7 linked regions of the Homo sapiens genome follow. The protein of the gene in region 6 purifies or fractionates together with the protein of the main gene of each other region. This does not show direct contact. Each region holds a gene or a part of one and is shown on either strand. Other genes may lie near its edges.

The links.
Region 1: the proteins of HIC1 (region 6) and GOLGA4 purify together in Homo sapiens (affinity purification with mass spectrometry, with the first as the bait; one large-scale study listed by BioGRID). This does not show direct contact.
Region 2: the proteins of HIC1 (region 6) and IARS1 purify together in Homo sapiens (affinity purification with mass spectrometry, with the first as the bait; one large-scale study listed by BioGRID). This does not show direct contact.
Region 3: the proteins of HIC1 (region 6) and BCL11B purify together in Homo sapiens (affinity purification with western blotting, with the first as the bait; one study listed by BioGRID). This does not show direct contact.
Region 4: the proteins of HIC1 (region 6) and POLDIP3 purify together in Homo sapiens (affinity purification with mass spectrometry, with the first as the bait; one large-scale study listed by BioGRID). This does not show direct contact.
Region 5: the proteins of HIC1 (region 6) and DNMT1 purify together in Homo sapiens (affinity purification with western blotting; one study listed by BioGRID). This does not show direct contact.
Region 7: the proteins of HIC1 (region 6) and THOC7 purify together in Homo sapiens (affinity purification with mass spectrometry, with the first as the bait; one large-scale study listed by BioGRID). This does not show direct contact.

Annotation. Positions count from the first base shown.
Region 1 is NC_000003.12:37,249,477-37,253,573, forward strand, and holds part of GOLGA4 (golgin subfamily A member 4), read left to right. Parts: intron 1-221; exon of another isoform or gene 222-266; intron 267-1,918; coding exon 1,919-2,008; intron 2,009-4,097. UniProt on the Homo sapiens protein: Involved in vesicular trafficking at the Golgi apparatus level. May play a role in delivery of transport vesicles containing GPI-linked proteins from the trans-Golgi network through its interaction with MACF1. Involved in endosome-to-Golgi trafficking.
Region 2 is NC_000009.12:92,286,952-92,291,048, reverse strand, and holds part of IARS1 (isoleucine--tRNA ligase, cytoplasmic), read left to right. Parts: intron 1-126; exon of another isoform or gene 127-213; intron 214-1,622; 5' UTR 1,623-1,629; coding exon 1,630-1,748; intron 1,749-2,766; coding exon 2,767-2,923; intron 2,924-3,075; coding exon of another isoform or gene 3,076-3,138; coding exon 3,139-3,258; intron 3,259-4,097. UniProt on the Homo sapiens protein: Catalyzes the specific attachment of an amino acid to its cognate tRNA in a 2 step reaction: the amino acid (AA) is first activated by ATP to form AA-AMP and then transferred to the acceptor end of the tRNA.
Region 3 is NC_000014.9:99,269,219-99,273,830, reverse strand, and holds the start of BCL11B (B-cell lymphoma/leukemia 11B), read left to right. Parts: upstream 1-1,633; 5' UTR 1,634-2,612; coding exon 2,613-2,670; intron 2,671-4,612. UniProt on the Homo sapiens protein: Key regulator of both differentiation and survival of T-lymphocytes during thymocyte development in mammals.
Region 4 is NC_000022.11:42,597,486-42,601,582, reverse strand, and holds part of POLDIP3 (polymerase delta-interacting protein 3), read left to right. Parts: intron 1-1,789; coding exon 1,790-1,885; intron 1,886-4,097. UniProt on the Homo sapiens protein: Is involved in regulation of translation. Is preferentially associated with CBC-bound spliced mRNA-protein complexes during the pioneer round of mRNA translation. Contributes to enhanced translational efficiency of spliced over nonspliced mRNAs.
Region 5 is NC_000019.10:10,152,950-10,157,046, reverse strand, and holds part of DNMT1 (DNA (cytosine-5)-methyltransferase 1), read left to right. Parts: intron 1-537; coding exon 538-656; intron 657-1,101; coding exon 1,102-1,194; intron 1,195-1,990; coding exon 1,991-2,142; intron 2,143-2,273; coding exon 2,274-2,461; intron 2,462-2,567; coding exon 2,568-2,754; intron 2,755-4,097. UniProt on the Homo sapiens protein: Methylates CpG residues. Preferentially methylates hemimethylated DNA. Associates with DNA replication sites in S phase maintaining the methylation pattern in the newly synthesized strand, that is essential for epigenetic inheritance.
Region 6 is NC_000017.11:2,060,634-2,064,050, forward strand, and holds the end of HIC1 (hypermethylated in cancer 1 protein), read left to right. Parts: 3' UTR 1-858; coding exon of another isoform or gene 859-989; 3' UTR 990-2,608; downstream 2,609-3,417. Other genes in the region: SMG6 (telomerase-binding protein EST1A), read right to left, coding at 859-989. UniProt on the Homo sapiens protein: Transcriptional repressor. Recognizes and binds to the consensus sequence '5-[CG]NG[CG]GGGCA[CA]CC-3'. May act as a tumor suppressor. Involved in development of head, face, limbs and ventral body wall.
Region 7 is NC_000003.12:63,856,804-63,860,900, reverse strand, and holds part of THOC7 (THO complex subunit 7), read left to right. Parts: exon of another isoform or gene 1-256; intron 257-4,097. UniProt on the Homo sapiens protein: Component of the THO subcomplex of the TREX complex which is thought to couple mRNA transcription, processing and nuclear export, and which specifically associates with spliced mRNA and not with unspliced pre-mRNA.

The sequences.
Region 1 (4,097 bases), on a different chromosome or scaffold from region 6:
CAATCTTGGCTCACTGCAACCTCTGCAGTTGAAGCAATTCTCCTGCCTCAGCCTCCTGAGTACCTGGGATTACAGGCGCACAACACTACTCTTGTTCATGTTTTTAAGTCCTTATTCTTCCTGTTTTGTCTTTGGTGGGAGAGGATATGTCATCCCTTAAGGTGACTTCTGCACATAGCTAATTTCATCTGTTGTATTGATTTTTCTGGTTCATCTTTTAGAAGGTGTTGGAGTTCTTGGTTGTAAGCAACAAAAAGTCAATCTAGGTAAGCAGAAAAATAATTTATTGAAGACTCTTTACCCTACAGAATTTCCCTGAGGTCCCAAAAGTCTGAGCTGATTGCTACGTCCAGTTATACTGGGGAGACTACTCTGTGTTGCAGCTGCTTCAGCTTGGCACCAGCATTGCATCTGTCACTTCACAGCTTATATTTGTGTGGATGCATGAAGTTCTGTCTCCATTGTCATCAGATGATGAACTTTATTTGTATGTCTGTTTTTTCACATCACTCACTTATGACTCGAAGTCTCATGTGTTTCATTGATGGAGCTCAGGTTACCCTGTCTCAGATAAAAAGAAGATTGGGTTAGTAAGTTTTCTGAGTTCTAACTTACGGACTTATAAGAGCTGTTTATAGAAAAAAGGTTATTAAACTTTTGTCATATTTGTAGATGCTTTTCCTCACCTCCCAATTAAACTGCTGCTTTGATTTGTTTTTCACATAAAAATCTCTTTCCCATTCAGAGATTGTAGAAATAGACTCTTGAATTTTTTGTATTTCAATAAAAAAAATTAAATCTTTAATATAGCTTAAGTATGAAGGATCTGATTTGTGTGTCTTGCCCCATATGGATGGCCAGTTGTCCCAACATTTATTGAATGTCTATCCTGATGCAAAATGTTACTTTTATCATAAGCTAAATATGTATATGTCTGTCTGGATGTATATATGTGTATATAGAGTATGTGTATATTTGTATACTATTCCTCACGACCTCTCAGTTCCACCCTAACCACAGCAGTTTGTGCACGGATACCACAGACCAGAGTTCCATTTGTTTATTCATTCATTCATTTATTTGACAAATATTTATTAACTGCCTTTTGTAAAGTGCAGACTACAAAAAGAGGTAAGATATCATGACTCATTCATTTCTCAAAATAGATCTGAGTTCAGATCTATTTTGCTGTGGGTGTAGGGGGATTTCAAAATTTTGGTTTTATACTTTTAGGGTTGTTTTTAGCTCACCTTAGAGTAGACCCCAGACCTCTAGTTTAAATTTTGAGCCCTTTCTCCTGAGTTTTTTTGCGCTGAGGGTTATAGGAGTCAGGCTGTCAATTACAGAGCTAAATGGAATAGCATCTCAGTATTTAGCAGTGGTATTCAAGGTAGGCTCAAAGCAAGGCCATTAATTAGGTGGGCAAGTGCTGTTTATCTGTGCATTTCATACTATTGAATGTTAGAGCTAGAAGGTAGAAGGGATCTTAAAGATTGAATTGCCAGCCTTTTTTTTTTAAATGAACTTCTAATTTTGGAATAATTTTGGTTTATAGAAAAGTTCTAAAGATAGTGCAGAGAGTTTTTATATACCCCTCACCTGGCTTCAGTTTTCTCTAATATTATCATCTTACACTAGTATCGCAACTTTATTTTATATATGGAGACACATAGTCCTCAAAAAGTTCATGTAGCTAAGATCATAGTTCTAGTTGGTGGCAGAGTTAGGCCAGGGACCTAGTAGGTAGCCTGGGTTTTCTAGTTGATTATATTTGTTATCCTTTTCTGCTTTTCGTGTTTTTGCTCTTTTCCTTTCTTTCACTGAATTCTTTGGGCATGGACTGAGAGAAGGACTACCTAGTTCATAGTTCACTAGTCAATATAGTCTTGCTAATTTGTGCAATAATTTTTAAATCTAGGCGTCCTCCAATTCTTCAACACCAACAAGAATGAGGAGCAGGACATCTTCATTTACAGAGCAACTTGATGAAGGTACACCCAATAGAGAGGTAAGTTTGGAATTCCTTTTCTAGTATACCTCTCAAAAGAAACTAATCTAAAATGTATGCTGTTGATAACAAAATGGGAAACTTTTGACAGGTCAGCTATTTAATTCCTAGGTAGAGTTTTTATTAGTAACACAATTGGTCTTTTTTTTTTTTTTTTCACAAATAGCAGTTATGATTTATGTCTGTCTGTCTGTCTGTATGTATGTATGTATGTTTTTGAGACAGGGTCTGGTTCTGTCACCCAGGCTAGAGTGTGGTGGCACGATCACTGCACATTGCAGCCTTGACCTTCTGGATTCAAGTGATCCTCTAACTTCAGCCTCCTGAGTAGCTGGGACTATAGGCGCACGCCACCTGCCTGGCTAACGTTTAAATTTTTCGTAGACGGGGTCCCACTATGTTGCTCAGGCTGGTCTTGAACTCCTGGGCTCAAGTGATTCTCCCAATTATGCTTTATAAAGTATGGTTGTTGAGAACCTTAATTTGAGAGGATAATATGTTCTGGATTTAATAGTTGAAGTTTTCAGAATAATTTGATAAATTTGTTCAACATAGCATCATTTTTTCAAGCTGGTGAGTGGAAACTGAGAAGTAACTTATTTAACTTATTCCATGTAACCAGCAGCTGGCATTAAAACTCATTATTTCCCACTTTTTTTCTGTGAAGTGTAACACACATACAAAAAGAAGGTAAAACATAAATGCACGGGTCAGCAAATTATCATGAAGTGAATCCTCCCAGGTCAAGCAAAGGAACACTGTTAGCACTGTCGTGCTCCCTTTCCCCCTGAAGGATTACCACCATCCTGAATTTTTGGTATTTGCTTGCTTCCTTTTTTTTTTTTTTTTTAATAGTTTTACCTCTTAAATATGCTTTCTAAATGTAAACATTGTAGTTAAACATTTGGGTTGTCTACAGGTTTTGGCTACTATGAATTATGTTGCCATCAACATTATTGTACTTTTTTTTGGTGTACATGTACCTGCATTTCTGTTGGTATGTACTTTGGAGTAGAATCACTGCTCCATTTTAACACATAAGAAGATAATGCTGATGGTTTTCCAGAGTGGTTGTAGAAATTTAAATTCTCACCAGGAGCTTATGAAAGTTGCTTTTGCCCTATATTTTTGAGAGTCTTTATTTTTCTACTCTGTGTAAATATGCTGGAAAACAGTCTTTTTCATTTCAGCTGTTCTGGTGGTGGTCTTTCATTTTGGTTTTAATTTACATTCTCTGATAACTAACGAGATTGAGCATTTACATCTGTTTATTGCCCATTTGATGTCTTTTGTGAGTGCTTAAGTCCCTTGCCCATTTTCTATTGGATTATCTTTTTTTAAAACTGATTTGTAGGAGTTTTTTAAAAAATATAGAATACTAAGGAGTTTTTTGTTGAATATATATCTTGCAGCTATCTTCCACTCAGTGGCTTGCCATTCATTTTAATGATGTCCTTTGATGAACAGAAGTTCTTAGTTTTAGGCCAAGTATGGTGGCTCATGCCTGTAATCCCAGCGCTTTGGAAGGCCAAGGCAGGAGGATTGCTTGAGTCCAGGAGTTTGAGACCAGCCTGGGCAACAGAGTGAGACCCTGTTTCTGCAAAAATAAAATAAAATAAAATTAGCTAGGTATGGTGGCATGCACCTGTGTGGTCCCAGCTACTCAGGAGGCTAAGGCAGGGGCATTACTTGAGCCTCGGAGGTCGAAGCTGCAGTGAACCATGATTGCACCAGCCTAGGTGACACAGTAAGACCCTGTCTTTCAAAAAAAAAAAAAAGCCTGGTTCCCATCCATTTCCCATCCCTGACAGTACCTTCTATCTTAGAAGTTTAACAAAATGAGAAACCGCATAGGGTACAGGGAAATGATGAAAAAATTAATTTAATGTCCTTTTAACCAAAAACTTAATTATATAATTGAAAAATCCTTTATTTATTATAAAATAAGTTGAAGTAAGGTTTAGATTGCACTCTGTGGTCAAAGTACCTGTTAAAGTTGTCAAAAAAGCTTAAAAAGCAAGGAGATGAAGTGATGACAATGCTTTGTCATTCTATCCGAAACCATCTCTTAGCTAGGATTGTTAATATT
Region 2 (4,097 bases), on a different chromosome or scaffold from region 6:
CTCTCATTAGGGACTAAACCAGAAAGGTATAGGGCTCATCCTTCATAAAAATCATGAATAAGCAATAAAAAGGGTAAAATGGAAAACTGGAATCTATATTTGAATGTGAGATTCTCATCTTTTTAGCTTTAAGATTTTTTAAGTTTTACCAGTTTTCCTCAAAGAGAAGATGAAGTTACTTCAAGAGAACTGATTTCTGTCATGTGAGTGTAGGTAAGAAAATTCTTAACTACTTTGAGATATTTTTCTTCAGATTATTAATGAGTTTTTTGCACCACTAGATAGAATTTCCAAGATTTTCCTGCTTACTTTTGGAAACATTGTCTCTACCATTACTGAATATTAAATAATAGCCATGTACCCCTCCCTCACACCATATACGAAAATAAAATTATTTGTGGCCTAAATGTAAGCGAAAAATCTATAACCTTGTTTAGGTAATGGTTTATTGATGACACCAAAAGCTCAAGCAGCAAAACCAAAAATTGACAAATTGGGCATCATTAAAATGAAAAATCTTTGTGCTTCAAAAAATGCCATCAAGAAAATAAAAAGACGGCCCACAGAACAGGAGAAATTTTTTATAAATCATATATCTGATAAAGGATTTGTATCCAGGATGTATACATAACCCTTAAAACCCAACCACAAAAAGAGCCCAATTAGAAAATAGGCAAAGGATAAATATCTATCCAACGTGGATACGCAAATGGCCAATAAGCATGTGGAAAGATGCTCAGCATCATTAGTCCTTAGGGAAATGCAAATCAAAACCACAAGATACTACTTAACATCTCCTAGAATGACTGTAATTCAAAGATGGACAATAAGATGTGTTGGGTAAGATCTGAAGAAATTAGAATCCTCATTCACTGCTGAGGGAATGTAAAATAGTACAGTCACTTTGGAAAAATTTTGGCATTTTCTCAAAAAGTTAAATACAGAATTATCATGTGACCCAGAAATTCTACTTCTAGCTACAAACCCAAGAGAAATGAAAACATAGATCCACACAAAATTTTGTATGTGAATGTTCATAGCAGCGTTATTCGTAATAACCAAAAAGTGGAAACAATACAGGTATCCAAGAAATGATGAATGGATAAACAAAATGTGGCATATTCATGAAATGGAATACTATTCAGCTATCAAAAGTAATGAAGTATGAATACATATTACATCATGGATGAGCCTTGAAAACATGCTAGAGAAAGGAAACCAGATGCAATAGGCCACATATAGATGATTCCTATAAATTTTCCCATTTATATGAAATGTCCAGAATAGGTAAATCTGCAGGGACAGAAAGAAGATAAATCGTTGCCACTGGCTATGGAGAAGAAAGAATGGGGAGTGACTGCTAATGGTTTTGGGGTGTTTTGGTGGGGAGGGGAGGTTGAAAACGTTTTGAAATTAGGTATTACTAGTTATACTACCTTGTAAATATACTAAAAAGCCACTGAATTGTACACTTTTTACATTACACTATGTAAATTGTACATCAATAAAGCTGTAATTTTTTAAAAGTATGGATAGTGTCATGTACACCCATGTTAATAATATGGTACTCTGTTATTCCTAGATTTCTCTTTTGACAGTAATAAATTTGATTTCTTTTGCAGCAACAAAATGCTTCAACAAGTTCCAGAAAACATAAATTTTCCTGCTGAAGAAGAGAAAATCTTGGAGTTTTGGACTGAATTTAATTGTTTTCAGGAATGCTTAAAGCAATCAAAACATAAACCAAAGTATGTGAATTTTTTAGGTTAAGTTCCCTTAAGAATAGTCATTTCTTAGACTGAATTCCATTAAAGCAGATACTTTTTTTTTTTTTTTTTTTTTGAGATGGAGTCTCGCACTGTCATCCAGGCTGGAGGGCAGTGGTGCAATCTCTGCTCACTGCTACCTCTGCCTCCCGGATGCAAGTGATTCTCCTGCCTCAGCCTCCCGAGTAGCTGGGATTACAGGTGCCCGCCATCACACCAGCTAATTCTTGTGTTTTAGTAGAGACGGGGTTTCACCATGTTGCCCAGGCTGGTCTCGGACTCCTGACCTCAAGTGATCCACCCACCTCGGCCTCTCAAAGTGCTGGGATTACAAGTGTGAGCCATCACGCGCGGCCTAAAGCAGATACTCTTTATTAATCTTTCTATTCCCAGAATCCCCCAGCTCCCTATGTAGTGGGTACTCAGTAGTAGATATACATTGAATGAATGAGTTCTCAATTATTGGGGTAAATTTTGTTTCTTTAAAAGGTCATCTGAGTAAAATTTATGTGTCATCCTCCGTGTCACCCTCTTTCCACCTTTATTTTCATCACCACCCTCGTTTAGGCACTTATACCTAAGTACCCCATAGAAGGCTACTATAGTACTACCTGCCTTTAGTCCTCATTCACCTAAAAGACTAGTCCTTTAATCAGTGTTTTCATTATATGTCTCCTCTGGTCAAAAACTATGAGATAGGGGTTTATTGCCCTATTTTACTGATGAGATAACTCAAGATCAGGATAAATAATTTGCCTTATGTCATGGAACTAATAAATGAAAAATGGATAATCAAATGGAGGTCTCTGTAGCTCTACCACAATTGTAGCCTTTCTGAAGGCAGGACCACCAGTAAATATCAAATCAATTATGTCTGTCGGTTTCCTGATCTTGCTGCTTTTCTCCTTGAAGACTCCACTATGACAAGAGCTATCTATAGAAAAATGCCTTAAATTTTGGCTGTTTTTAAATGGCTTGATATATTTTTATTACCTGTTAGATTTACCTTCTATGATGGTCCTCCTTTTGCAACTGGACTGCCTCACTATGGACATATACTTGCGGGTACAATTAAAGATATAGTTACAAGATATGCTCACCAGAGTGGGTTTCATGTTGACAGAAGATTTGGATGGGATTGCCATGGCTTACCTGTGGTATGTTTGAGTATCCAGCTTTATAATTTTCTGATTTTTTTTATAAGCATTAGATTTTGTCATATAATATGTTCAAGTATGATGAACGTTGACTGTCAGACCTTCTAGTTCATTTCTATAATATTTGTAGTTTGATTTGTTTTGTTTTCTAGAGTTGCATAGTTGCAGTTGTTTTCATAGGGCAGCGTGGTAACAGTCTTATCACAAATTTTCAGGAATATGAAATTGATAAGACACTGGGAATCAGAGGACCAGAGGATGTGGCCAAAATGGGGATTACAGAGTATAACAATCAGTGCCGAGCAATTGTGATGAGATATTCTGCTGAGTGGAAGGTATGTTGGGTTTTTTTCAGTAGAATGAACAGCAAATGTAGTTACTAAATGGGCATTGAAATGGTTTATGGTCCCTTGTGCTTTTTTTATTAATTTATTTTTTGTAGAAAAAGTGTTAGCTTCCACCTTCAACCCTATTACTTAAACGGTTAGCTTAAACTGAACCATCTCTCTTCTGACTTCTGTGTGCTTAATTGGTCTAACTTTCTTGCATGATCACCAATAGGGAAAAATTCTAATAAGTATAACATGATATATAGGCCTTTTCTTTTTTTCTCAAATACTTTTTTCAATTTTTTTAACTTTTCATTTTGAAATAATTTGACTTATTAAACAATTGAAAAAGTAGTATGATGGGTTCCCCTATATCCTTCATCCATCTTTCCCAGCTGCTAACATCTTCGGTAACCATAATATTAATAGAATTTTCAAAAGCAGTTGCCCCATTAATTTTTATTTCTGACCAATCACATATTGCATTTGGTTGTCATGTCTTTTTAGTCTTCTTAAGTATGGAACATTTATTTAGTCCTTTGTATTTCATGGCCTTCTCACTTTTGAAGATTGCAGAACAGCTATTTTCTATAATGTCTCTCAATGTGTGAGGTTTCCTGATTTAATTTAGGTTATGCATTTTTGGTGACAATGCCACAGAAGTGATGCTATGCCCTTCTCAATGCATTATATCAGGTGGCATGTGTTGCGGCTATGTCACATTGATGGTGATAACTTTGTTCACTTGGTTAAAGTGCTGTCAGCTTTCTGCTTTGTAAAGTTGTAGTTTTTCCTTTGTAATTAATAAGTATCTTGTGGGGAGATTCTTTCCAAATATTCTTTTT
Region 3 (4,612 bases), on a different chromosome or scaffold from region 6:
CAAGCCAGGGCACATTTTATTGTTATTATTTTTTAGGGTATGGGACTGGAAGGGATCTCTTTCTGTTCTCGCTCACGGACTCTGGGCGCTGTTAAATTGTTGGTGCCATCGCCCCACCCAAGACCTTCGGGACGAAAACAAAAACCCCCGTGTGCCCCCCGAGGAAAAGGCCCCGAGGGAGGCGGCGCTGAGGCGTCACGGCCTCGCCATGCGCCCGGGTGAAGCCGCCGGAGCCAGGCCTGGGGGCGGAGTGGGGTGGGTGCAGCTGGACTCGCCCGCGAAGCCTAGCCGGAGCCAGGCCCCGACCCGCCCTGGCCGCCTCCAGAGAAACCCTGAGAAGGGAGAGGAGGCCAGCCGCGTGGCGCGCCCAGCCCTGGAGGCCAGGTCATCAAATTGACAAAGTTGGCCACAGCCTGGGGAATGGGGGGTGTCCACGGGGGCCGTGGTCTGGCCTTGTCCCCGGGCCACGGAGAGGCCCCACAACTCCTCTTGTCCTCGCCGGTTGGAGATCAAACGGCTGACAAGGCAGCTGCGTCCTTCCCAGTCTGACAGGCATTTCCAAGTCCTACCCTGGGCCGAGGAGCGCGGGGGGCGGGGTGTGACTTCCAGGTTGCTGTGATTGTCAGGGGCGCCTCCTGGAGTCACCCACCCGAGTATCTGCGGAGATTTGGCCACACCTACTCCTGGGCTGGCAAGTCCAAGTCCCTCTCCCACGTGGAGCGCCCCGGTCCCTTTACCCTCTCGCTTGCCATAGACCCAGTTTAGGAGGTGGGGTCGTGTTTGACCCCAGGAGTTAATCGGGGTAAGGTGAGGGGAGGGGACAAAGATTTGAGTGAAAATCCTTTTCCAAGTGGGACTCAAACAAGGTCTCAAACACTTCTCACCCCCTCACGTGCTCTTGATTCTGTTGTCTTAGTGTCGTTTATTTTGTCATCCTCACCCTCCCAGAGTCTGTAATACCAGGATTTATATGGAGACACTTTTTGGAAGTTGAACTCCAACATCTACTCCCCTCCCCTCGCCGCCCGCGACCATAAAACAAAAGTAAAAACTACCAAGCGACTTTTCCAGGGAAACGAAGCGATTCTTACTGTCCCCCCAACTCCCATGTCGACCCCAACCCTTTTCCACAGTCCACGCCCCCACCCCCAAAGTCCAAGTCCGAAAGAGCTTTTGGGTGGGTGGAGACTTGCATTGATTCAATTTAGTTCACTCACACAGCACCCCGCCCCCCTTCTCAGGGGGTCCTGCTCCCAGGATGGAGGAGATATAAGGACGATTTTTCTTTTATTTTAAAATAAGCTGCCCAGTGGCCCCCCCCAACCCCCTCCCGCTGTTGCGCAGCCGGGGCTCGGGGGAGATGAGCGCACAAAAACGCGGTTTGCACGTGTGTCCGGCTTGGGCTGCGGGTGTGCGCAACTGGCGACTGTGTGTGTGTGTGTGTGAGTGTGCGCGCGCGCGCGAGTGTGTCTCTGTGTGTGCTTTCTTGTTCTCTTACAGGGTACAATGTTAAAAAGCCACCGCTAGTCGCCCCCAGTGCTCCGACTCTCTGGGTCTTTTTGTCTCTAGTGCAGATTAAACGTCACGTCCGCACTTGAACTTGAATTTTATCCCATTGTACAGAGGCAGCCCCAGCCATAGAGAGACCGAGAGCTCCCAGAGAACCCGGACTCCGCCATCTTCACGTTGCAATCTATAGCTCCCAGTCTGCGCCCGCACCGACCCAGGCGCACTGGGCGAGCCGCCCCTCCGCCCCGCTCCCCCCGGGCCCGCGGCGCCAGGGGAGCGCTGGGGAGCGCTCGCGGGGACTCGGCAGCCCCTCCGGCCGGCGCCAGCCTGCCAGGTGAACTGGGAAGGAGCCTCTCCTGGTGTCCCCCCAGAGCCTCGGAAGGGTCAGTCTCCGAGAAAAAACAAAAACAAAAACAAAAACAGGCAGCCCGCAGAAAACCCAGAAACAACCGAACCGGGGCAGTTTTACATTGCTTTGGGTTTTTTGAGGGGGCGGGGTGAGGGGGTACGAGACAAGTCCCCAAGTTTTCTTTGCTTTTTTTTTTCCTTTGCTTTTTCTTCTTTTATTTTTTTATTTGTTTGCATTTTTTTTCCCCTCCTGGTAGAAGTGCGCTTTCCACCTACCAGACCCTGAAAGAAAGTGTCAGGAGCCGGTGCAAAACCCAGTTTAAGTTCAAGAAGACATTTGCAAGTGCAAGAGGCCAAGCAGTTTGAAGAAGTGTAAGAGATTTTTTTTCCTTCGAAAGAATATATTTTTAAAGAAACCAGCCAGTCCGCGGAAAGCAACAGCAGTTTTTTTTTTTTTTGCCTCTTTTTCTTATTTTAGATCGAGAGGTTTTTCTTGCTTTTCTTCCCTTTTTTTTCTTTTTGCAAACAAAACAAAAAACAGCATAGAAGAAAGAGCAAAATAAAGAAGAAGAAGAGGAGGAAGAGAGGGAAAGAGAGGAAGGGAAAAAAAACACCAACCCGGGCAGAGGAGGAGGTGCGGCGGCGGCGGCGGCGGCGGCAGCGGCGGCAGCGGCGCGGCGGCGGCTCGGACCCCCTCCCCCGGCTCCCCCCATCAGTGCAGCTCTCCGGGCGATGCCAGAATAGATGCCGGGGCAATGTCCCGCCGCAAACAGGGCAACCCGCAGCACTTGTCCCAGAGGGAGCTCATCACCCGTAAGTGTCTGCGGAGTGCGCGCGAGGGGCCGGAGATGGGGCTCCGGGCGTCTGGGGCTGGGGACACCGAGCCCGGAACAGCCGAGCCTGGCCAGGCGCCGGGGCCGCCCGCTGGCTGGCAGAGTCTACGGCGTCGGCCTGGAGCATGGCGGGGGGCGGGGGCCATAGGAAAGTTTCTTTGCAGCCCGGGGAGTTGGGGCGCCGAGCAGCCGGACGCGCCTCGGGCTCGGGGGCCTGCGGAGCCGGCTCCGGGCCGGGGAGGGGGCATGCAGGCTGGAGGAGTGTGTGTGTGTGCGCGCCGAGCCCGGCTGGACGCTCGCCCCTCCGAGCGGCGTGTGTGGCGGCGGCGGCGCTGGTGGCGGGGTTTGGAGAGGAGGGGGAGGGGGCTGGGGGAGCGGAGGGGGAGGGGGAGCCGGGAAGTGGGGAAAAGTTGGCGAGCGCGTGGGTCCGCGCTGACGGCGCGGGCGGAGGAGAGCGGGGTGCGTTCCGGCTGGGGGAGCCGTAGGGCCAGGGGCGGCCGCCGGCTCCGGGTCCCCGGTCCCTGCGCCCGGCCCAGCAGGGTGCCGGCCGCGCCAGTCCTAGGATTCCGCAGCCGCCTTTCTCTCCCCTCCTCCTGCTATTTGCAAAATAATCCAGCTGCGCGGCTGTTTGCCGGGCTCAAGCCCCCCTCCCCACCCCCCACTTCCCCACCTCCGTCTGTCTCCTGGGATGATCTTGTCTTCTTTCCCCCACTTCAAAAAAGGTGGGGGGATTGGGGTTGGTGAAAAATCCCCGCCACGAGGAAAAAAAAAAAGGTTGTCAGTTAGGAGTGGGAAGAGAGTGATGCGCTTGTAAAATAGTAAAAGAAAAAAAAGAAAAAAAGGAGACCCATCAATCTCGTATCCATCTTTCTATCTCAGTATCTTTCATCTTTCCTATCTAAATAAACAAGGCAGGTCGCAGTGGAAATCCACCGGCTGAAATCGTGTCGATTTCAAGCATGTGGCTGGGCGGGCAAAGTCAGGCAGCGGGGCAAGACAAGCAGCAGCTTCCACCGTCCCTGTTGGGTTTATTTAGCAGAGGGGAAAAGCGAGCGCGAGCGGGCCAGGTACGGTGTTTGCAGGGGAACCCGCCCCGAGTCCCCGCACACTTGCACCGGGAAGGTGGCTTTGCGGCGCTCCCCGCCCGCCGCAGCCCGCGGGGCGGCTTCTTCGCTGCGCGCGAACATTTCCCCGCCGTTCTTTCTCTCGCGGTGCCTGGGTCGCCGTTCCTTTTTTTTTTTTTTTTTTTTTTTTTTTTTTTTTTTAACTGCAATAGAAATAAAACATCCTCTGGGTGCCATCGAGACCGCGGGCAGGTTATATGCTTGCAATCCGCCGCGCACCTCGCCGGGCTGGGGCCGGGCTGCCCGCGCGGAGCTCGAGAGGGCTGCGCGCCCAGTCACCGCAGAGGACTGGCTGCCGGGCGGCCGAGAGCCGAATATTTATGTTATATTTTAAAAAATTTAAATAAATAAATAAATATATAAAGTGGTTCTCCCCTCCCCTGAAAACCCAGCATAGGAGCCATCTGCTCGGAGCAATTGCTGTTGCCATCTCTCCTTTGTTACAGCAGATACATTAGTAAGAATTTGTGGATTTATTATGATTTTTTTTGGGGGGGGGGGAATAGAAATTAAAGTGGGATTCGCCTTGGGAGAGGGATGCCTCTTTGGAGGAAGGGAAGAGGACTTCTCTTTTATTTTTCGCCGTTGTAACACCAAAGAAGACTCGCCGGCTGCGTTTAAAACAAAATGTTTTGCAGCTAGATTTGAGCTTGGTTTGATCAAGGTCTTTTTTGCCAGTTGACATTTCGATCCTTTACCAAGCCACAGCAATCGCTTATTCTACACCCTTCCCCCTTTAGATGGGGTGGTTGTTAAAACGTCTATACTTGCAGAGGCTTAATTTCTCCAGGAGGCAAT
Region 4 (4,097 bases), on a different chromosome or scaffold from region 6:
CACCATGTTGGCTAGGATGGTCTCAATTTCTTGACCTTGTGATCCCCCCGCCTCAGCCTCCCAAAGTGCTGGGATTACAGGCGTGAGCCACCACACCCAGCCAAGAAGAAACTTCTTAATAGAGGAAGGGAGGCATAGGGGGCAGAGAGGCTAAAAAAAGTTTTGTTTGTTTTTTTTAATTTTTTTACGCTTTTTTTTTTTTTGTCTTTTGTTTTGTTTTTTTTTCCTTTTTCTGGAGAACGGGGTCTCGCTATATTGCCCAGGCAGGTCTCGAACTCCTGGGCTCAAGCTATCCTCCCGCCTCTTAGCCTCCCTGAGAGCTGGGATTACAGGTGTGAGCCACCGCGCCCGGCCTAATTTTTTTAAATAAAAGTTCTATGTGCTTAATATAGAAAACTTGCCAAAAAGTCCCTCAAGTTCCTATTCTCCAAAGCCAGTCACTGTTGAAATTTTGCCATAGTTCCTTACATGTACGCTTCTTTTTTTTTGATACAGGGTTTCACTCTGTCCCCCAGGCTGGAGTGCAGTGGTGCAGTCATGGCTCACTGCAGCCTTGAGTTTCTGGGCTCAAATGATCCTCCCACCTCAGCCTCCTGAGTAGCTGGGATCACAGGTGCATACCACCACATCTGGCTAATTTTTGTAGAGATGGAGTCTTGTCATGTTGCCCAGGCTGGTCTCGAACTCCTGGGTTCAATCGATCCTCCTGCCTCTGCCTCCCAAGTAGCTGGGATTACAAGCATGAGTCACCGCGCCTGGCTAATTTTGTATTTTTAGTAGAGACGGTGTTTCTCCATGTTGGTCAGGCTGATCTCGAACTCCTGACCTCAGGTAATTCGCCCACCTTGGCCTCCCAAAGTGCTGGGATTACAGGCGTGAGCCACTGTGCCCAGCCCCAGTCTGTTTTTTACTTAACTCATAGTTGTGGTTGTGGTTATATATTCTTTTTTTTTTTTTGAGACCGAGTCTCGCTCTGTCACTCAGACTGGAGTGCAGTGGCACGATCTCGGCTCACTGCAAGCTCCGCCTCCCGGGTTCACACCATTCTCCTGCCTCAGCCTCCCGAGTAGCTGGGACTACAGGCGCATGCCACCATGCCCGGCTCATTGTTTGTATTTTTCGTAGAGACGGGGTTTCACCATGTTAGCCAGGATGATCTCGATCTCCTGACCTCGTGATCCGCCCTCCTCGGCCTCCCAAAGTGCTGGGATGACAGGCTTGAGCCACTGAGCCCAGCCATGGTTATATTCTTATCCAATTTTGTATCATTCTTTTTTCACTTTGTAACTCAAGCATTTCTCTGTGACATTTCATATTTACTGTACATGTTTTAGTAACTGCAAAATCTATATAGTTGGCATTCCAGTTTTATTTAAACCATTTTCCTGTCATTTTCACTGTTAGAAATCCTTCTGCTGTGAACATCTTTGTAAATAAAGCTCTTTCTAGGGTTTGGATTTATTTCTGTAGGTCATATTAACAAGGATGGACTTTCCAAGCCAAAGGATATAAAGAAACATTTTAGGGACTCTTGGTACATACTGCCCACTGGGAAAAAGGGACTTCTGATGTATCTGGAAGTTGTAGGACTTTCACTGGGTCCTTGCTGACAGGGAGTTAGCCTGTGAAGACTTGGGCCCCAGTCTTTCCAGGCACCGTCACCCCTGTGCCCACTTCTCCTTGGTCCCTTTGTTTCTCCAGCAGCCATTTCCTTGCCATGCCTGTTCTAGATGTCTGTTGAGGGCCCAGATGCCACATTTGCTTATATTTCTTTATGTTATATTCTCAGAATTTATATGACCTGGATGAAGATGATGATGGTATAGCTTCCGTTCCTACTAAACAGATGAAGTTTGCAGCCTCAGGCGGCTTTCTCCACCACATGGTATGGCATTTCATGTTTTCTTACACTGCGTGTCTGATCAGGCAGGTGGGAGAGGTCGTGTTGAATAGAACCTGTTGTTTTTTTTGTTTTGAGACGACATCTCGCTCTTCTCCCCCAGGCTGCTGGAGTGCAATGGCGCAATCTTGGCTCACTGCAACCTCCGTCTCCTGGGTTCAAGCTATTATCCTGCCTCAGCCTCCCTAGTAGCTGGGATTACAGGCGCCTGCCGCCACGCCCAGCTAATTTTTGTATTTTTAGTAGAGATGAGGTTTCACCATGTTGGCCAGGCTGGTCTCAAACTCCTGACCTCAGGTGATCCGCACGCCTCGGCCTCCCAAGGTGCTGGGATTACAGGCGTAAGCCACTGCGCCCGGCGTGAATAGAGCCTTTCAATGCAGAAATATTTCTTTGTTTGGGCCGTAAGATTTTCAGAGCTGGAACTAGTCCATTCCCTTAGTTTTATAAACGCTGAGACACTGGGGTGCCTTCTGATTTGTTCAAGGTCCCACAGCAAGTGAAGTACAGGGCTGCAGCTCCTAGGTGCTGTGTTTGAGACACTATAGGGAAAGTGTGAGTGATCCCACAGTGGGGAGTCTGTGTTCTTTCCTTGGTGGCTGGCCATTCTGCATGCTTCGTAACCCTTTGTGGTCAGCAGCTCTGGCGCTGCTCTTGGAGTCTGGATTCCGTTGGTTAACATTAGCAGGAATACATCTCACCTGATCTGTGGGCTCTACCAGGTGCAGCCTGCATGCAGGGAAAGCTTGCTAGGCTAGAGTGTTGGTCAGACATCATGCAGAGAAGGAAAGAAAACAACATCTGGGATCATCAGGGAGGTCCATGCTGCTCAGCTCAGTGGTACAGCCAAGTGTCAGACAGGGAGGCCAGTGGGCTGCCTAGGTGGGTCCTTGTGGCAGCCACCTCTTTTGTTTTTCCTTCAGACGCTCAAAGACTCAGTTTTGGTTACTGTCCTGAGTATGTGGACCAGCCTCCTGGTTAGTAATTAAGAGAAATATGGGCCAGGTGCGGTGGCTCACGCCTGTAATCTCAACACTTTGGGAGGCAGAGGCGGGCAGATCACAAGGTCAGGAGATGGAAACCATCCTGGCTAGCACGGTGAAACCACGTCTCTACTAAAAAATACAAAAAAGTTCGGGCGTGGTGGCTCACGCCTGTAATCCCAGCACTTTCGGAGGCCGAGGTGGGTGGATCACGAAGTCAGGAGATCGAGACCATCCTGGCAAACATGGTGAAACCCCGTCTCTACTAAAAATACCAAAAAATTAGCCAGGCGTGGTGGTGTGCGCCTGTAGTCCCAGCTACTCTAGAGGCTGAGGCAGGAGAATGGCACGAACCCAGGAGGTGGAGCTTGCAGTGAGCCAAGAGGCGCCACTGCACTCCAGCCTGGGCGACAGAGCGAGACTCTGTCTCAAAAAAAAAAAAAAAAAAAATATCCGGGGTGTGGTGGCGGGCACCTGCAGTCCCAGCTACTCGGGAGGCTGAGGCAGGAGAATGGTGTGAACCTGGGAGGCAGAGCTTACAGTGAGCCGAGATTGTGCCACTGCACTCCAGCCTGGGCGACAGAGTGAGACTCTGTCTCAAAAAAAAAAGAAACATGAAGCTGGCTCGGCGTGGTGGCTCACGCCTGTAATCCCAGCACTTTGGGAGGCTGAGGTGGGCAGATTACCTGAGGTCAGGAGTTGGAGACCAGCTTGGCAACATGGTGAAATCCCGTCTCTACTAAAAATAAAAAATTAGCTGGGCATGATGGCGCGTGCCTGTAATCCCAGCTGCTCGGGAGGCTGAGGCAGGAGAATTGTTTGAACCCCGAGGTGGAGGTTGCAGTGAGCCAAGATTGCGCCACTGCACTCCAGCCTGGGTGACAGGGCGAGACTCCGTCTCAAAAAAAAAAAAAAAAAAGAGGTCGTGAAGCTGAATGATGCCAGTTTGTTTCTTTACAAAGGGACCAGGCCTTTCCAGTAATTAGACTGCTCAAGTCTGCTATCAAGGGAACTATCAGCTTGCTCAGTGAGTCTCTATCCCTATTTGATACCCTAATTGAATAAATGCCATATTTATACTCATGCGTCTTGTACCCTGTGAGATGGGTACTGTTGATTACCCTCGTTGATGGATGAGGGACAGGCATGGAGAGGTGAAATAAGCCTGTTCAACATCACCCAGCTGATGAGAAGCAGTGGATCTAGGAATGGAG
Region 5 (4,097 bases), on a different chromosome or scaffold from region 6:
ACTGATCTTTTGGTGTTGCTGTTGCAGACACACATACACTTGATGCTTAGGTGGGAGAATAAGGTAGAAACTCTGGGTGATAGAACGCTGTCTTAATCCAGTGTTCCCGCAACCAAAAAATGAGTGTCGGGGCCAGGCATGGTGGTTCAGCCTGTAATCCCAGCACTTTGGGAGGCTGAGGTGGGTAGATCACTGGAGATAAAGAGTTTGAGACCAGCCTGCTACACATAGTGAAACCCCGTCCCTACTAAAAATACAACAATTAGCCGGGCATGGTGGTTCAGGCCTGTAATCCCAGCTACTCGGGAGGCTGAGGCAGGAGAATTACTTGAACCCGGGAGGTGGAGGCTGCAGTGAGCCAAGATTATGCCATCGCGCTCCAGCCTGAGGGATAGAGCAAGACTCTGTCTCAAAAACAAACAAAAAAAGAGTGTCAGACTTGTACATTCTCTCATTGCCTCGTGCCTGATCTGAAGTCTGCACGAAGACCCGCCTTCACGGCTTAGCTGGTAAGCATGTGCTTTGTTTCCTGTCTAGTGTGTACTGTAAGCACGGTCACCTGTGTCCCATCGACACCGGCCTCATCGAGAAGAATATCGAACTCTTCTTTTCTGGTTCAGCAAAACCAATCTATGATGATGACCCATCTCTTGAAGGTAAGGAATAGTCCGGGATTATGTTTGGGGCACACTTTAAAAACAGCCAGGCAGGGTGGCTCACATCTGTAATCCTAGCACTTTGGGGGTCTGAGGCCAGAGGATCACTTGAGCCCGGGAGTTTGAGACGAGCCTGGACAACATAGCAAGAGCCTGCCTCTATTAAAAAAAAATATATAGCATATATATATAGTATACATATATACTTATATATATGTATAAATAAAAAACATACTTATGAAGCAATAGTCAGCTGGAGTTGCTGCTGCCTCTTAAAGTTAGGGTGTGAGACTTTGTGCCAGGAGCAGCTGTAGGCCAAGTCATTGTGATGACTGAGGAGCACCCGACCTGGCTGATGGGATGTCTGCTGAGTGGGCGCTTAGAGCGCCTCCTGGGTTTGGGATGTGAGTCAGAGCCTTTAGTCCATTTCCTTTTTCTGCTCTAGGTGGTGTTAATGGCAAAAATCTTGGCCCCATAAATGAATGGTGGATCACTGGCTTTGATGGAGGTGAAAAGGCCCTCATCGGCTTCAGCACCTGTAAGTGTGTGGCCCATCATAGGCTGGCCGGGGTCTGAAAGGGGCCTTCATGTTCTCCTTCCTGGGGGCTGACGGGGCTCTGGTGGGAATTCTCAGCAGGCTTGCAGAAGGCCATGTGACTGGGAACCTTAGCAGGTTCAGTTGGGGTAGCCTCTTGTGTTAGTTATGACTGGCTCTGGAACTGACTCTCCAGTTGTAAGAGCAGGTCTTGGCCGGATATGGTGGCTCACACCTGTAATCCCAGCACTTTGGGAGGCCGAGTTGGGGGGATCATTTGAGGCCAGGAATTCGAGACCAGCCTAGCCTGGCCAACATGGTGAAACCCCCTCTCTACCAAAAATACAAAAATTAGCCACGCATGGTGGTGCATACCTGTAATCCCAGCTACTTGGGAGGCTATGGCAGGAGAATCACGTGAACCCAGCAGACAGAGGTTGCAGTGAGCCGAGATCACGCCACTGCCCTCCAGCCTGGGTGACGGAGCAAGACTCTGTCCTCCCCTGAAAAAAAAAAAAGAGCAGGTCTTATTCTTGCAACCCAAACCCAGACTGAATTCCAAACACCAGAGATGAGCTCAATGAAGGCCTACTCAGCTAGTCTTCGCTCTCTGGCTGGCTCAGACAGGCTTCTTCAGAACAAGCCAGCTATGATGTGTTGTGCCCTATGTTTCTGACATTTGGGTACGGGATGACTTTTAGACTGTTGGGTGAGTTTGGTAGACTCCTCCATGCCCTGTGGCCACTGTAGGCGCCATCAGATTCCAGCCCCTTTTCCACACCTCCTCTGTTCACCCCAGCATTTGCCGAATACATTCTGATGGATCCCAGTCCCGAGTATGCGCCCATATTTGGGCTGATGCAGGAGAAGATCTACATCAGCAAGATTGTGGTGGAGTTCCTGCAGAGCAATTCCGACTCGACCTATGAGGACCTGATCAACAAGATCGAGGTAAGAGATCGAGGGTCCTCAGCATCCGGGATTCCCACTGGAAACTTGCCTTCAGAACCAGCAGACACTGTTCTTCAGTTGGATTTAGGCCAGTTTGGCTTAAGCATGAGAGAAACCTGTTCTCTTTCAAGACCACGGTTCCTCCTTCTGGCCTCAACTTGAACCGCTTCACAGAGGACTCCCTCCTGCGACACGCGCAGTTTGTGGTGGAGCAGGTGGAGAGTTATGACGAGGCCGGGGACAGTGATGAGCAGCCCATCTTCCTGACACCCTGCATGCGGGACCTGATCAAGCTGGCTGGGGTCACGCTGGGACAGAGGTAAGGATGCGGCAGGGACCAGAGTGAAGACTGGAGACCGGGGAGGGTAGAGCATGGCCCACATCCTCTGTCCCAGTCCTCTGAGATGCTGGAACCTCTCCCGTAGGCGAGCCCAGGCGAGGCGGCAGACCATCAGGCATTCTACCAGGGAGAAGGACAGGGGACCCACGAAAGCCACCACCACCAAGCTGGTCTACCAGATCTTCGATACTTTCTTCGCAGAGCAAATTGAAAAGGATGACAGAGAAGACAAGGAGAACGCCTTTAAGCGCCGGCGATGTGGCGTCTGTGAGGTAACCTCACCTGTGGGTGCTCCCGCTCCCCTAAGGTGGCCCAGCCTCTGGCCTGATCTGAGGACTGCTCCATCTTTCTCTCTGTGGCTTGAGACTCTGGCTGCTCAAATGTGACCCCTGAGACAGAAATTAGTTAGTGGTCTGGGAGGACCCTGCATACTTCATTGAACGTCAATAGGACAGATGTCCACAGAGGCATGCTTGGGTGCTTTGCTGATAATGCCACTGTCCTTAATTGAAGAGCCTGGCTTCTGGGTGGCTCTGCTGTGCCTGCATCTCACAGTCTGAAGGCCCCTGTTGGACTGCTAAAGGGGTATTCACATCTAAGTGGGCACTTTGTCCAGCTTAGATTTGAGGCCCTCAGGAGGCGTCCCTTTCTGTGAGTTTTTAAAATATATGTTTACTTCACTCAGGAGGAACTAACTTCCTAGTCCTATGACCCAAAGACCAGGACTATTTTGATACCTATTACCTGACTTTCTTTTGGATAAAGACTGGCTTCAGGGCTTTGCTTTTGATCCCCGCTGGCATCTCTTAACAGGAGCCTGCATGTCCTCACCATTGTTATTTTGGTTTTATTTTATTTTTCTTGGTTAACACACGTGTGTCCAATGTTTTATAACTTCTAAAATCTTTTTTTTTTTTTTTTAATTTTTTTGAGACAGTCTCTCTCTGTCACCCAGGCTAGAGTGCAGTGGCACCATCTCAGCTCACCGTAACCTCCGCCTCCCGGGTTCAATCAGTTCTCCCACCTCAGCCTCCCGAGTGGCTGGGATTATAGGCACCCGCCACCATACCCGGCTAATTTTTTTTGTATTTTTAGTAGAGATGGGGTTTCACCATGTTGGCCAGGCTGGTCTTAAACTCCTGACCTTAAGTGATCTACCTACCTCGGCCTCCCAAAGTGCTGGGATTACAGGTGTGAGCCACTGTGCCCAGCCCTAAAATCATTTGTTTTTATTTGTGTAACTGTTACGTGTTGATACTGGTAGATCTAGTTATTTCATTTTAAATATTCTGTAGTATTTTGTTAAATGAATATCCTAACTTACTCCTCAATGATAGGCACCTCTTCAGTATTGTAAATATGTGGCAGCATCCTTGAGCAAAGCTTCTCGCGAGTGTATCTGCTTAGAAGTAGCGTTGCTGGGTTGTGGGTGTGTATTCTTAACTTTGATCTAGAAGATTGCTCTCCAAAATGGTTCTACCAACTTACCATTTGAGCAGTGTGCGTTCTTCTTTCCTCACACCACCTATCTGGCTTCTTAACCCATCTGGAGAATGGGAAGGGAATTTTATTTCTCTCACTTACCATATTTCTAATGAGGTTGAATATTGCTTTT
Region 6 (3,417 bases):
GGCGGGCAAGGAGGGGTGAAGGGGGAGCTGAGGGGAGTCAGGACATTTCCTGAAGAGGAAGCTAGACGGAAAGAAAGGCCAGTGAGGAGAGAGGGAGCAGGTGGAGGCCACCCGAGAGCACGGGCCTGAGACCAGATGCCCCTTTCCTCTAGACTCATGACTGTCCACGGGGACGCAACTGGCGAAGTGTGAGGGACCCAGGTTGATAAGGGCAGGAAGAGGAGCAGCAGGAAGGGTGTGTGGTAAGTCTGGGGTGGATGGTAGAAGAGGTGGGGGCCCAGGGCTGCTGTTAGGGACATGCTGTCTAGAAGCCGACTTGGGTTCATGGGCGAGTCCAGGCCTCAGGGAGACTGGGGACACACACCCTGGGCACTTCTTCCTGACTTAACCAAAGCCTCTTGAACACATTCACGACAGAGGTTCTGAAGATGAAAGGGAACTGTGATTTCACTGCATCTGACGGAAACTCAGAACCCCTGCCCTGTCTCCACTGGAGAAAGTGGCTGCGTCCCCAGGCGAGAAGGCCCTCCCTCAGCCTTGGAATGAGACGGGGGAGGGAGAAAGGCTGAGAGCATGGGCGGCCTATCTGGCTTGCCCAGCTGCTGTTGCTGTAGCCAGCCACCTCCCTGCTAAATCCTGGCAGCCCAGGAGGGTCCCAGCAGCTTCCGCCCGATCCTTGGGAGGGGCTCTGTGAGGAGCAGGTCCCCCACAGCATGGCCGTGGCGTGGGTTGGAAGAGGATGGTTTATTGTCTGGGTGGATTGGTGGCTCAGGCACGTGGGCATCTTCCGTGCTACACTGGGCGCCTGGTGGCCTTTCAGGAACGGTTCCACGGGGGGGGGGCCCCAGTGTGGCTCCCTCAGCCCACCTGGGCCCACGTGAGGAAGGCTGGGATGTCCCGTACAGGAACATTCCTTGTGAGCGCCTTCACACGCAGGTTCCGGTCATCCGTCAACAGCACCACCTCCCGCAGTAGCCGGATTGGCTCCTCTGTGGGCATGAGAGAGCAGAAGGCTGTCACTGAGGACAGGAGGCAGAGGGCTGGCTGCTCTTCTCACCCTGGAGAATGTGGTCCTGGGGAGGGGGTGCCACGCTAGCCGTGTCTTGGCTCTTCTACCAGTCCTTTCCTCCGTCCGGGCTCTCAGCCCCGGGGACCCTCCCCTGCTGGCCTAGAGAGGGCTGCACTGGGCTTCTGCCTTGACTCCGGCCTCCCATACAGGACTCTCTTCTGCCTAGTTCCCAAAAGCTGCCCAAACCCGTCAGCCTCCCAGGACCCTAAACTGAGGGAATAGAAGCAGCCCCTTGACCTCTACTCCTTTTTACCACATGGCTGGCCCCCAGATCACAACACCGCTCTCCCCACACCCCACTTTTTTTTTTTTAACAAGTCCTCTCCCTCTAAAAGCCAGCAGGTTGAAGCTTTACGCATCCAGAGGCAGAAAACTAAAGATGGAACAGAAAATGTATCCAGGGTTTTCCAGATGTGGGGAGAGGGGTTAAGGGAGCCCTGAGGAGAGGAGAGGGTAAGGGTCTTGGCAGAATTGTGCCAAGGGCACACCAAGGCTTTGGCCAACCGGTCGCCCCTGCTAAGTAACAGTAATCCATGTATACAGGCGAAAGTCTCTAAGAGGACAGAAGAGTAAAAAGGAAGAGTAGAGTTAAGATGATGATCCCAGTTCTCCGTCTTGTACCCCAGGGAAGACCTGTGTATCCTTCCAGGTTTCTTTAGGCACATTTACAAGTACATACACTTGGACATATAACCTTTTTTTCCTACAGCATCATGATCATATTAGCCACACTTTCAGAGTATATACTTAAAAGGTCTTGCTATAGTGGCACAGATATCTTTCATTCTTTTTAGATGACTTTTTTTTTTTTTAAGCACAGTCTCTCCACTACCTCTCTTTCCCTAACTCCCTAATCTTTAACACATTGGAGAGAATTTAAGCCAGGGACAAGCACTCACACAAGTGACATCCCTACCCTGACAGGCCTGCTTGGGTGGCAGGTCTACTCGTCAGTCCCAGGCTGGGCATTTCCTGACAGAGGTCCAGGTCCGGCAGACAGCAAGGCACAGGAAGTGTCCTGCTGTGCTCACTGACTGCGTGGGCTGGCGGGGGTGGGGGGCTGCAAATATCCATGTCGGACCTGAGCAGTCTCAGGCTTGCCAGCTCCAGGCAGGGAGGCTGAGAACTGGCTTTCAGCCTGGGGAGGAGTTTGGAGGATTCGGGAGGGAGAGGTTTGTGGGGTTGGTGGTGGCGAGAGAAGAGGACAGGAGGAAGGAGAGTGTGAAGGGAGGCAAGGGGCTGTGGGCAGAGGGGAAAGGAAGGTGGCCTCGGGTGAGGGGATACTCAGAGACTACTCAGCTGCCTGGGCCAGGCCCCTCTGCAGATAAGTGTGGCTGGGGTGGTGGTATGCAGGGCTGTGTGGGGCTCCCAGCTGACTGGCTGCGTCTGTAGCAGCCCCACTATTCCTGCCCTGGGCCTCAAACCAGGAGCGTCCCAGGCCTTAGGTCAGCTAACCAAGGCCCGACATTGCTGGCAGGGGTCTGCAGGGGTTTCTGTGGATACTTTGACATTTTTCACAATAAACATCCTCTGTTTTGACACTGGTAACTTCACTTTGTTAGAAACCAGAGACTGTCATCTTGTCAGGCCCCATCCGCCATAATCCACATGATTTTAAAATTCAACATCGTTTACACATAAACATTTAGTGACGGTTTCTCTGTGAATCTGACAAGTTAATCTGCTAAGAATTCACACTGACAAATGGGCTTTGATTACACCAGCCATTGCTGATGTCATTCTGATAGGGGCGGTCCCCCGGATGGCAATGGGTTCCTGTAGGCTGTTTGGGGTGAAGTCGGGGGTGGGAGGACTAGTAGGACCAAAGCCAAAATGTGTCCGTTCTGAGAAAGAAAGTTCTGAGGCTGGGGTGGGGCCCAGCAGTCCTGGAACCACACTTCCCAACAAGGCCTTCAGCAATCCCGCCTACCTTTCTCTCAGGAGGTACCCCTCTAGGAAGCTCAGGCTTGCCAGCTCCAGGCAGGGAGGCTGAGAACTGGCTTTCAGCCTGGGGAGGAGTTTGGAGGATTTGGGAGGGAGAGGCTTGTGGGGTTGGTGGTGGCGAGAGAAGACGACAGGAGGAAGGAGAGTGTGAAGGGAGGCAAGGGGCTGTGGTGGGCAGAGGGGAGAAGAAGGTGGCCTCGGGTGAGGGGATACTCAGAGACTACTGAGCTGCCGGGGACAGAACATAACCTCCTCTGTTTGGCTCAGCCAGGTCTCCTTTTATCACTTTAATGCTCATATCTGGTCCCAAGGGATATGGCATGCAAACCTGGTGGCAGGACAGGACCTCTCTTGAGTAGCGGCTGTGGGCTCGTAACCAGCCCCTAGTAAAGAGACTCATGCAG
Region 7 (4,097 bases), on a different chromosome or scaffold from region 6:
TCTTTCCTAGAAGTAGTTGACCTTCTGCCTACTAGCCATATTATTTTATGCATATTGCTGCTGTCACCCTTAATACGTTATTTATATGCCTTATGCTAGAAAACATTTAAGGCAGTTCACTGTAATGAGAAAATATAAAAATTAAACGGATTAGAAAACAAGACAAAAAGAACATTGAGATTAGGAAAAATAAAGGGAAGTCAGAAGTGGGGTGATCCTCAAAATGCAGGAGGATAAAGTCTAGTACATTAATTAACCAAGCTGTAAGTGACCTGTTTCTCCAGTAGGCCATTCTGAGAGGCAGGACCTCGTCTGCTCTGTGATCTAGTGTTCATGAGAGAAGGCAATCTTAGATGCCCAGGAAAAGCACTTTTTTTTTCTGATTTGAACTAGAGGAAAAGTTTATCATTGAGGTCTTTATAAATGAAAGCCAGTGTCATATCCTTAACCTCTTTTCAGCACTGAAGATCATAGAGCTGTTTTGTAGCACATCCCTTGCTAGGTAAAAGAAGGCTAAATCACAATTTAGAAAGACATTCTAAAGCCAGTAGAGGCTGGGTGTGGTAGCTCACACCTGTAATCAATCTTAGCACTTTGGGATGCTAAGGCAGGAGGATCACGTGAGCCCAGGAGTTTGCGACCATCCTAAGCAACACAGCAAGACATGATCTATACTACAGAATTTTTCAAATTAGCCAGGCGTGTGTGGTGGTGTGCACCTGTAGTCTCAGCTACTCATCTCTACTAAAAATTTTCTTAAATTAGCCAGGTGGAGTGGAACACACCTGTAGGTAGTCCCAGCTACTCAGGAGGCTGAGGCAGGAGGATCACTTGAGCCCAGGAGTTTGAGGTTGCAACGAGCCATGATTGCACCACTGCACTCCAGCCTGTCAACAGTGCTAGACCCTGTCTAAAAATAAATAAATAAAATCAATGGACAATGTGGTTTAGGTGGGTAGTGGGTAGCTCTGCTGATCTGGCTTGATTCAAATCAGGGTTTTTTGATTGAATATCTAGACCATAGAGGAAAGACAAACTACAACTTCTTCAGACAATCCTCTATAAACATGGTTTTTGTCAGCTGAGCTTTTGAAAAAATCAAGCTGAAATGAGTGGTATGTGTGATCCGTCAACAAGTATTTATTGCATACCTTCTAGGCACAATGCGAGGTCCTGGCTACTTTGCAGTGAACTAGACAGAGGAGGGCCCTGGCCCCTGCTTTGGGGAAAGAAGCCATAGTGTGCAATCAAATAAGTAAATAAGATAATTTCTGAAAAGGAATGTAATTAAGTTCTGAGAATGAACTTGATGGAATGAGGACAGAGAGTAATGGGGGAGGGCAGTGATACCTGACAGGTTCAACCACATGAAGAGCCCAGGAAAGTATTCCAGATAGAGACAACAACTAGTGCAAAGGCCCGAGGTGAAAACAAGCTCTGCACCCTTTAGAGGAAATAAGGAAAGCCACTGGGCTGGATCTAGGGACAGGACTGCATCCAGGTGGGCCAAGAGGAGTACGATGCAAAAGGAGGTAAAAGGGAGCTCAGGAGGAGCCTTGCAGGCTTTGGAAAGGAGACTGAATTGTCCTTTGTGGGCATTTAGAAATGATAGGAGGATTGTAAGCAGGAGAGTTAGTGATCCAATTCATCTTTTAGATCATTCTGAGTTGCATAAAAAATGGATTCTAGGAAGGCAAGAATGGAAACAGGGAGTCCAATGCAAAATATTCCAGATGAGAGAAATGTGGGCTTGGATTAGAGCGATGTTAGTGTGGAAGATAGAAGTGGATGCTCTTGATATCTCATTCATCCTCCTGGAAAGCTCTTGGAGGAGTACCAGTACCTGTCCATGGAGCTTACATAAGAGCCAATGTCTTTTACAAATTTGATGTGCCTGTATCACTGTCCCTTCATGTAATCCATTCCTCTGGGTCTGCGTATCCAGTTGGACTGGGAGCTCTTGAAGAAGCAGCCCTTTATTTCCTGCACTCAGTTTGAGGAACTGCCCTGCTTTAGAGTAGCTATAGCTACTAGACTGGATATTTTCACCACTACTGTCATGTTATAAGTGAAAAAGTAGAGGTCTTTGGAAGTTAGTGACTTGCAGTCACACAGGTAGTTTGTGACAAAGCCATTTTCTCTCCTTCCCTTGTTGCCAACTCTAGCAGTCTGGCTAGCTGAAAAACAGTGTGGATGTTGTCACTGTTAATTTAAACTATGTTAACTGTATTTTGTATGTGTTAATTTAAAGGATGCTAAATATTGTTAGTACCCTGATAGAAATCATTTCAGAAGCACTTTTTGCACTACAGAGAACATTAGGTGATATATTGATATGCCAGAGCAACAGATGAGAGATGGAGAAAGGGGTTGGGGTGGAATGTGGCTCTACATTCTATTTAATAAAGCTTGCTGGTTTTGACGGTAGCTTTTTTTTTTAACTTAGAAAAATGTAATGCATGAATATGTACTTGTTGCAATGTGAAATAATGGTTTTTAATATGCCTACGAATAATATGACAGAATAATGGAGCTGCATTATGACTTTCTAATAATGTAATTGTATATATTTTTCTGTGAATGCAGAGGTGAGTAGTAACTCATCTGTGAAAGGAAGATAATAGTACACACTTTGTAGAGTTGTTTCAAGGATGAAACATGATAATATATGTAAAGCACTTTGAAGTTGAGTGACCATTTAATTTATTGTGTAAACCAGGACACTTTTCAGAGTGAAAAGAAACAAATGGGTTGTGTGGTCACCAACTAGGGTGGTATAAATGCTGTGCAAGTGTTTGCTGCTGCTGTTATTCCTATTTCAATTGCTGATCCAATGTTAATTAGACATTTGTGGGCACAGGGTTCTTTTGTTTTTGGGTTTTTTTTTCATTAGTGCCATTGCATTTGCCCACTTTCTTCCATCTTCTGTGGCCCCAACACAGGGATAACTGCTGCAGTTCAACTATGAAATGATGTTTCTTTAGCCAAGATAATTGGTTTTTCAAAGCAAGATGGACATTTCACCTTGACTTTATTAGCACTATACTACTCTAAACATTTAAATAGAGAGAAAAGACAAAGGACCTCAACATGATGTTTTGCATTTATTTTCCTTTTAAAATTTTAAATTTAATTTTGGTGCACGTAATTTACCTTGGCATCAGCAATTTATGTAGACCAGTCAGAAGTATCTTAGGAGAGGTTAATATCTACATGGAGGAATCAAACCATCTTATTGTTCCTTCCACCCACCTTTTATGTGTCTCCTTAATATTGTTGACCTTAAAAATTGTTTTAATGGCTTTGAGCTTTTTGAAAGGAGGGACCAGGTGTTATTTTACCATAAGGAATGTAACACAATGGGCTAATATGTGTGATTCATCTTAATAACATGAGCTGTGGTGGTCTAACGATAAATCTTACAGGAATCTGCATGAACATTTTTTTTACATGGCCTTAGTCTCTCTTCTTGTTCATTTAAAGTAGGTCAAATCAAGCCAGTTTTCTTTGTTGTTGTTAACATATCATAGCTTTATTCAGTAACGGAGTAGAATTTTTAATACAGAGAAAATGAAGTACCTGAGAATGATAAATAAGTTTACCACCCAGTTAACCACTGTTACTACTTCATAAAAAAAGTACTACATGTCAGTAAATTCAAGAAGAAATGCACAATATGAAAAATGAAAACCTTCCCCTCTTTACCTTCCGTAATAATTCCTCTCCCAGAATGATTTTTAATGCCTCTAAAAGGTAAAAGTATCTTCTCTGGAGCCTGACTCCTGAGTTTGAGTTCCATTTCTATTCCTTACTTCCTGTGACATTTAATTTTTGGCAAGATGCTTTTTCATTGGTAAAATAGGGATAAGAATATCTATAATGAGGCCGGGCAAGGTGGCTCACGCCTGTAATCCCAGCACTTGGGGAGGCCGAGGCGGGTAGGTCACGAGGTCAGGCGTTCAAGACCATCCTGGCTAACACGGTGAAACCCCGTCTCTACTAAAAATACAAAAGAATTAGCTGGGCGTGGTAGCGGGCGCCTGTAGTCCCAGCTACTTGGGAGGCTGAGGCAGTAGAGTGGCATGAACCTGGGAGGC